Linked DNA regions of Homo sapiens: region 1 is linked to region 2. Evidence: fine-mapped expression QTL. A gene starts in region 2. The other region holds a variant in brackets. All regions are shown on one strand. Distances are between the middles of the regions.

Region 1 (4,405 bases), 40 kb before region 2:
GTCACCAAAAGTATATGTAACATCCTAAAGTTATAACAGTCTTTTAAATTGATACCAACTTAACTTCAATCAGATATAAAAACCCTACTCCTTCACAGCTCTTTCCTTCCCGCACTGTTACTGATCTCATAGTACATCTTTACATATCGTGTACTTATTTACATAGATTGGTAGTCATTTTTATGCATTTGTCTTTTACGTTGTATGGAAAATAAAAACTGGGATTACAAACTAAAATTACTATCATAATGTTGTTTGTATTGCTTCATGCAATTGCCTTTAGTATAGATCTTTATATTTTCATATGATTTCAAGTTATTGTCTAAAATCCTTTCATTTCAACTTGAAGGATTGATTCCCTTTATCAATTTTTTTTTTTGAGATGGAGTCTCACTGTGTTGCCCAGGCTGGAGTGCAGTGGCACAATCTCGGCTCAGTGCAACCTCCACCTCCCAGGTTCAAGCAATTCTCCTGCCTCAGCCTCCTGTGTAGCTGGGATTACAGGCGCCCACGACCACGCCCGGCTAATTTTTATATTTTTAGTAAAGACAGGGTTTCACCATGTTGGCCATGCTGGTCTCAAACTCCTGGCCTCAAATGATCTGCCTGCCTCAGCCTCCCAACCTTTTCAATTCTTGAATAACTTGTCTACTGGCAATTCTCTCAGCTTTTGTTTTTCTGAAAAGTTATTAATTGATCTCTCATTTTGGAAGTATAGTTTTGCTGAATATAGAATCCTCAATATACCAGGTTTTTTTCCAGCACTTTAATACATCATCTGGCCTTGGAGGTTTGCTGAGAAATCCACTGATGATCTTTTTTTTTTTTTTTTTTTCTTTTTTGAGACAGTCTCCCTCTGTCACCCAGGCTGGAGTGCAGTGGCATGATCTCGGCTCACTGCAATCTCTGCCTTCCAGGTTCAAGTGATTCTCCTGTCTCAGCCTCCTGAGTAGCTGGCACTATAGGTGTACACCACCACGCCTGGCTAATTTTTGTAGTTTTAGTACACACAGGGTTTCACCGTGTTGGCTAGGCTGGTCTCAAACTCCTGACCTCAAGTGATCCACCTGCTTCAGCCTCCCAAAGTGCTGCGATTATAGGCATGAGCCACTGTACCTGGCCAGAGCCATTGATGATATTATTGAGGATCTCTTGTACATGACAAGTCACTTTCATGCTGCTGCTTTCAAGATGTTCCTTGTCTTTTTGATTATAATGTGTCTCAGTGTGAGTCTCTTTGGATTTATCCTACTTGAAAACAAGAATTCAGTCACTGCCAAAATGTGTGATTATTTCTCTTTTTGAGTACACAGTCACAGAAGTTCATGACCATAGGTCCTTATGGAGATCTCTGGGGAAAAAATTAGTGCTGTAAATTTTTTGCAATCTAGCAGGGTCCATCCTTATCCAGAACTGCCCTCCCACCCCATCAAAGGAATTGTGGATTTGTAAAGTGGACATGTCTTGGAATTTATTTTTGGGCTGTGAGTCTGCATTAGACGATTCAAGTTACACTTTGGTTCACTTGAAATAGAAACCTTCTACCTATATAGATTATGTAACAATTTAATAGACTTCTCATAAACTTATTTTTTTGAGATGGAGACTCACTGTATCACCCAGGCAGGAGTACAGTGGCACGATTCTGGCTCACTGCAAACTTCCGCCTCCTAGGCTCAAGCGATTCTCCTGCCTCAGCCTCCTGAGTAGCTAGGATTGCAGGCGCACACCACCACACCTGGCATATTTTTTGTATTTTTAGTAGAGATGAGGTTTCACCACATTGGCTAGGCTGGTCTAAAACGCCGCCTCAGCCTCCCTAAATGCTGGAATTACAAGCGTGAGCCACCATGCCCATCCTCATCAATTTATTTATTATGTTATGGATAATAAGACCAACAAAGGAAGGTCAACTAACCTGACTTGAAGCCTCCCTCCTTTTTCAAATGCAGAGGAAGGATGATAATCTGTAATAATCCCCACCGATTGTGAAAATATAACCAAGTCAAAGTTATATTAGGGAACTCACCAGTGTCCACAAAAGAAAAAGGAAATCAAATCTGTGGTGAAAAATGGCAAAGAATATTAGCCCCACATAAGCTCAGGGTACTAGATATAGAACTAGGTATTTAATATTCAG[C/T]GTGGTTGGGAGAAACAGAAATATTAACAAGAAACACAATCAGTCCCACATGTTAACACCATGTTGTAACCAAGTTGATGATCCAGGACACACCAGAGAGCAGACATAGACCCTACCAAACTTTTAATAATTATAATAAGCAAGTATTTTCTGTTTAATCTGCTGAGTGTTCTGTTACAGTTACCTTGGAGATGAGCTATTCTGGTATCGGTGACAGTTAAAAACCAAAACACACAAAACAAAAAGAAGACTGAGCCAACAGTTTTCTAGTACTATGTGCACAAAAAGTTAATATAACAGGCCTGAGACTGCAAATCTTAGAAAGGACTGCTTATAAGACTGGCCTTTAGCTGGTGTTAGGAAACACGGAGTTTGAGAGGGTTGCCACCATTCCATAACTGGTAGGCATGGTTCAAGTTATTCTGAACACTTGCTCCCCTTCTTGGAGTCTAGAATCTTGATATGTACCAGAGGGATGGTACCTACATGATTAGTTCCAATAAGAACCTTTGGTACGGGTTGATAATTAATTTCCATTGTAGACATTTCACAAGTACAGTCACAATTCAATACTGGAGGAATTGAGACCTGTTACTCCATGCACAAAGGATCTTTACAAATTTACATCTGATTCCCTCCAGATATTATACAAGAACCTTTTCCCTTTGCTGATTATTTGTATCCTGTCACTATAATATAGTCATGAGTACAACTATATTCTGAGTCCTCTTAGCAAATCATAGAATCTGGAGAGATTGTCTTAGGGACCTCCAACCCACTATGCAAATTGAGACAGCATGGATCTTCATAAAGTACCTAGCATCCTGAAAAGATACAGTCTAGAACATTAAGTATAAAAATCAAATCTATCTCTAGTAGATTTGATTATAAAAATCAAATCTATCTCTAGTAGATTTGATTATAAAAATCAAATCTATCTCTGGTAGATTTGATTATAAAAATCAAATCTATCTCTAGTAGATTTGATTATAAAAATCAAATCTATCTCTAGAGATAGATTTTGCTGAAGAAAGCCTTTTAACCTAATGTACTCAAAATATCACCACGGTGTCTATGAATGGAATGGCGCTCAATCCTGCTCTTTGTCCTAACTGGTTCCAGACTGTTAGAGGCCGCACTGCTGTCATGCTATTGTTCCCTACCCATACACACCTTTTCTTAAAAGAATCTTTGTTGATTTTTTACATCCACATGTATACCCCTTGATTTCTATCTCCAGGATTTTTCCACTCCTTCACTTATGCTTAAAGCGAGCTCACATGCATTATGTATGAGGACAGCTGAAGACACTCACCAATTTTTCTCTATATTCAAACTAGAGAATTTTTTTTTGAAAACCAATTTCCACAATCTTATTCCTTAATTTTGAGTCATGTCATACTATTATATGATACTTGGTACATATCCAAAGAAAAGGAAATCAGTATGTTAAAGTGTTATCTCCACCCCCCCATGTTTATTGCAGCACCATTCACGATAGCCAAGAAATAGGCCAAGGTATGTAATCAACCTAAGTGTCCACTGGATGAATGAATAAAGAAAATGGGGCAAATATACACATCAGAGTACTATTTAGCCATGAAAAACAACAAAATTCTATCACTCACAGCAAAGTGAATGAGACTTACAGGGCATTATATTAAGTGATATATGCCAGGCACAGAAAGATACATACCACATGTTCTCACACATATGTGGAAGCTCAAAAAGTTAACTTCATAGAAGTAGAGAGTAGAATAGTAGTTCTTAGAGGTGAGGAGGCAGGGTGGTAGCCAAAGGTTGGTTAATGAATACAGAAATACAGGCAGGTAGGAGGAATAAGTTCTAGTGTTTTACACCACTACAGGGTGACAGTAATTAACAACGTATTATTTTCAAATAGCTAGGACAGTGAATTTTAAGGGTTCCCAACATAAATAAATGATAAATGTTTGAGGTGATAGGTATGTTAATTACACTGATTTGATCATTACACATTGTATACTTGCATTAACTATCACACTGTACCCCATAAATGAGTACAACAGTTATGTGTCATTTAAAAATAATGACAAAAGCGTATCAAGATTCAAGCGCCTCTTGTAGCGCTTCCCACAGTCCTCACATTTAGATGTTTTCTCTCCACTTTGGTCTCTTTGTTGGTCTTTAAGGCATGAACTGTGCACAATGCTCTTCCCACAGTCCTCACATTGAAGTAGTTTTTCTCTACTGTGGAGTCTCTGATGGGTTAGATGAGTTGAGGCC
Region 2 (4,405 bases):
ATGCATAATGTGAACCCGCACATGAATTACATCAGACACAACTCCAAATGAATGCCTTTCTCCAAAATAACTTGCCTATACTCTTCAAAAATATCAAGCATAGAAAGACAAAGGGTGTAGAATCCTCAAGATTAAAGATTATGGAAATGTGACAATTAAAGGCAATGCATAAAATTAGACTGTGAACACAGGTGGTGGTGGCAGATGGGTAGGGGACACTTGTAAGAACCTTAAGTGAAAAATAGAACAAATTTAAATATAGAACTGCAGAGTACATAACATGAAGTTAGGTAATATGTTATCTAGCACTGTATAATAGATAATACAATAAACTACTATTAGCAGTCTTTGGATAGATATCTAATATTTAATAAATAACATTATCTGGTATACAATCTGAAATTATCTAATATGTTATGTGAAACCATATACTAGGTCTTCCTAAATTCTACTTACCAAGACAGCCCCTGGTACGTGGGCTTCCTTGCTGCAGAAAGCTATAATCAGCTGTCTCTGGTTACAGGTATGTTTCTAGTGGTATTCAGCTGATGGTCATCAACAAAACAAACAGGAAAAATGTAAACACTTGGCAAACGTGGGTAAAGAGTAAATAAGAATTTCTTAGGCTACTTTTGCAACTTTTCTATAGGTTTCAAATGACATGAAAATAAAAAGTTTTATAATTTTAGGAAACAGTCATAGGAAAAATAATAACAATAATGAGATTAATGAGTATGATATAACATGATAATTCACTAGTTTAGTCTGTCAGCATTTGGAAATTTCCATAGTTAAACACATAAGGGGGAAATATTAAGAAAAAAATTATAAAAATTTGTAAATGTTCATAAATAAACCTATAAATATACAAAAAGAAAGAAACACATTACGAGCTTAACAGTTGCTACCTTTACTTCATGGATTCGTAGGTAATAAAAACATTTTGTTCTTTTTTTTTTTTTTTTGAGACGGAGTCTCGCACTGTCGCCCAGACTGGAGTGCAATGGCAGATCTCCGCTCACTGCAACCTCCGCCTCCCAGATTCAAACGATTCTCCTGCCTCACCCTCCCGAGTAGATGGGATTACAGGCGCCCACCACCACGCCCAGCTAATTTTTGTAATTATTTTTTAGTAGAGATGCGGTTTCACCATGTTGGCCAGGCTGGTCTCGAACTCCTGACCTCGTGATCCGCCCGCCTGGACCTCCCAAAGTGCTGGGATTACAGGCGTAAGCCACCGCGCCAGGCCCATTTTGTTCTTAATAAAGAAAAATAGAATGCTGTACAATGACATGGTTCTATAAGAATACAAAATATTTGTAATGATTGAAACAAAATAGTTGACAACATTTTTAGAAACTCAGAAAATTTCAAGCCCCTAAGTCTTGCTTTCCCCACCTAAGTCCAACTAGTTCCTCTGCCTCAGTGACAACGTATCCCAAGAGAAGATCAAATCAGGCTCTGACCCAGACTGCTTAGGTTCCAACCCCAGCTCCACCTCTCACTAGTCGGGTGCCTATGCGCTCTGTGTCTCACTTTCGTTTTTAAAATAGAAAAAAGCAATACTTCTCCACAGAGCCACGGTGTGGCGTAAATTTATTTGTATAAAGCCCTTAGAATGAAGTTACTAATTAAGACTTAATTATTATCGACCCCCATGCCCGAGGACACAACCTATACACTCTCGGTTGGGGTGAGCATCTCGGTCAAAGAGCCAAGGACCACTCACGTAGAGCTTTGCCCTCAGAAGCCAAGAAGTCCCTCCCTGCAGCTCTTCTGGAAAGGTCGGGTTGGGGAACGAGAAAGCTGTGAAACACCTTGACCGCGTCGCCGTCCCCCATAAAAGTTAAATGCTCCTTTCCCTTCATGAAAGTGGACGCAACCCTCGCTCTCCTAAAAAGAGGTCAGAAGGCTTCCGGGATCATCCAGCGTCCTGCAGGGATCAGGGAGAAGGGCCGAGGCCCCTGCAGCTGGAGCTCTGACCCCACCCGGTCCTTCGTGGGAAATTAACAAGAGACCACCAGTCACCAAGTGACAGGGACTGCTTTAAGGCTCTCATTTGTGTTACCTCTTCCAGTTCCCAAAACGATTCCATTAGGATGGCCCTAAAGTCCCCATTTTAAAGAACAGTAACGGGAAACCCAAGGAGATTAACACCCCAACGTTATATCGAGAAGAAGTGGCCACGCGCGTGGGGTGCAGGGGGCGGAGTGGGCGAGCTCAGAGCCCCGGAAACCCTGAAACCAGGTGAGACGCGACCCAACCAAGTACCAATGCCCCCGGGAAGCGAGGACAGACCCAAGCCCAAGAAGGTGCCACGGACGAGAACGCAAACAGCGGCCCTTGCCCCTCCAAACCTCTACTCTCCGACGAGGCCCCTTTTCCCCTAATTCGATCACCAGTTCTTTGAGGATCCAATGCGTAGGTCCAGGAAATTCAGAAGGGCCTGCAACGCGCGGAACTGCCCCAAACTATCGCGGAAAAACTGCAGCAACCTCAGTCCCCGAGCGGAAGTGTCCGCGACTCCACCGAATGTTTGGACTCCACTTCCCAGAATTCCCCGGGACCCGCCAGCCGGAGCCAAACTGACCGCGACTCCACTGAGCGTCTGGACTACACTTCCCAGAATTCCCTGGGACCCAACTGCCGGAGCTAAACCGACCGCGATTCCACTGAGGGTCTGGACTGTACTCCTGCAGCATTACACTCAAAGGGAAGTGTTGACGACTACTGGGAAGCCCTTGACCACTCTTCCCACGGGGAACGAATCTCGTACCCCCGAGCGCCTGTTGGGAAATGTGGACTTCTACCCTGAGAGTCGTCCTTCCCTCTCCCTGGGTGCCTAAGAGAAAATACCGTATAGAAAGGAATTCCTGAAGTCTAAACCCCTCTAGTGAGGACAGGAGTGTTACTGGAAAGGGAACAAGCGAGATGATACACTCTTCAAATAAGTTTTGCCAGTGGTAAGAAATGGCATGTAGTTTTAATTTATAACTCTTGTAAAGATGGCATATTCTTGCATATTTTCAGGTGTCATTATTACATTTTTTGTAAATTGTCCAGATGTTTTGCCCACTTTCTTATTGAGTTTTTGGTTTTATCCCTCACTTTTCAAGCACTGTTCTTATATTCATGATATTAACATTTTATCTCGCAAATATTTTCTCAACAAAAACGTTTTTTTTTATTGTTTTATCTATGCAAAACATTTTAATGTATTTTATTATTTAAAACATCTCTATTGAGGTGTAATGCACAAAACGTGAAATTCACCATTTTAGGATATATGTAGTACAAATAAAAAGTTAGGAAACATTTTCATCACCCCAAAAACCCCATACCCACTAAGCAGTCACTGTCTAACACTAATCTCTGTCCTATTGAATTACCTATTGTGGACATTTCATATAAATGGAATTATACATTATGGAACCTTTTGTTTCTGACACCTTTCACTTAGCATCCTGCTTCTTTTTTTTTTTTTTGAGACGGAATCTCAAAAAAAGTGCCAGGCTGGAGTGCAGTGGCACGATCTTAGCTCACTGCAACCTCCGCCTCCCGGGTTCAAGCGATTCTCCTGTCTCAGCCTCCCGAGTAGCTGGGACTACAGGCGCGTGCCACCACGCCTGGCTAATTTTTCTGTATTTTTAGTAGAGACGGGGTTTCACCGTGTTAGCCAGGATGGTCTCGATCTCTTGACCTCGTGATCCTCCCGCCTCGGCCTCCCAAAGTGCTGGGATTACAGGCGTGAGCCACCGCGCCCTGCCAGCATACTGCTTTTAAAGTTCATCCACATCACAGCATGTACCAGTACTTCATAATATTTTATGTTTCTACTACGATTTGTTTTTTTTGTTTGCTTTGTCTTGTTTTGTTTTGAGGTGGGGTTTCCCTCTTGATGCCCAGGCTGGAGTGCAATGGCACGATCTCAGCTCACTGCAACCCCCGCCTCCTGGGTTAAAACGATTCTTCTGCCTCAGCCTCCCAAGTAGCTGGCATTACAGCCATGCGCCACCACACCCAGCTAATTTTTTTGTATTTAGTAGAGACAGGGTTTCACCAGGTTAGTCAGGCTGGTCTCGAACTCCTTACCTCAGGTGATCCGCCCACCTCAGCCTCCCAAAGTGCTGGGATTACAGGCTTGCGCCACAATTTGTTTATCCATTCATTGATTGAGGGACATTTGGGTTCTTTCCACCTTTTGGCTGTAGTCAATAGTGTTGCTACAAACAGTGGTGTACAAGTATTTGTTTCATCACCTACTTTCAATTCTTTGGGGTATATACCTAGATATGAAATTTAGTGATTCATATGGTAATTCTATGTTGGGAACCACGAAACAATTTTCCACAGCAACTGCACCATTTTTACATTCCCACCTTCAGTGTGTGAGGGTAGTAATTTC

What was found. PIP is the estimated chance that this variant, and not a neighbour inherited with it, causes the effect.
Region 1: its variant is the best candidate, but not a certain one, in a credible set for the expression of ZNF224 in whole blood (TOPMed, PIP 0.86).

The regions. Positions count from the first base shown.
Region 1 is chr19:44,132,519-44,136,923 of GRCh38, reverse strand. ZNF225 (zinc finger protein 225) reads right to left here. Exons shown (of 5, transcript NM_013362.4): 5 at 2,102-4,405. The coding sequence ends at 4,189. Among named protein-coding and RNA genes, the nearest start is that of ZNF234, 6.8 kb to the left of the region's middle. The variant C/T (reference allele first, on the strand shown) is at 2,141.
Region 2 is chr19:44,092,483-44,096,887 of GRCh38, reverse strand. It overlaps ZNF224 (zinc finger protein 224), which reads right to left and starts at 2,527. Exons shown (of 6, transcript NM_001321645.3): 1 at 2,358-2,527; 2 at 457-545. RefSeq lists an enhancer at 2,608-2,717.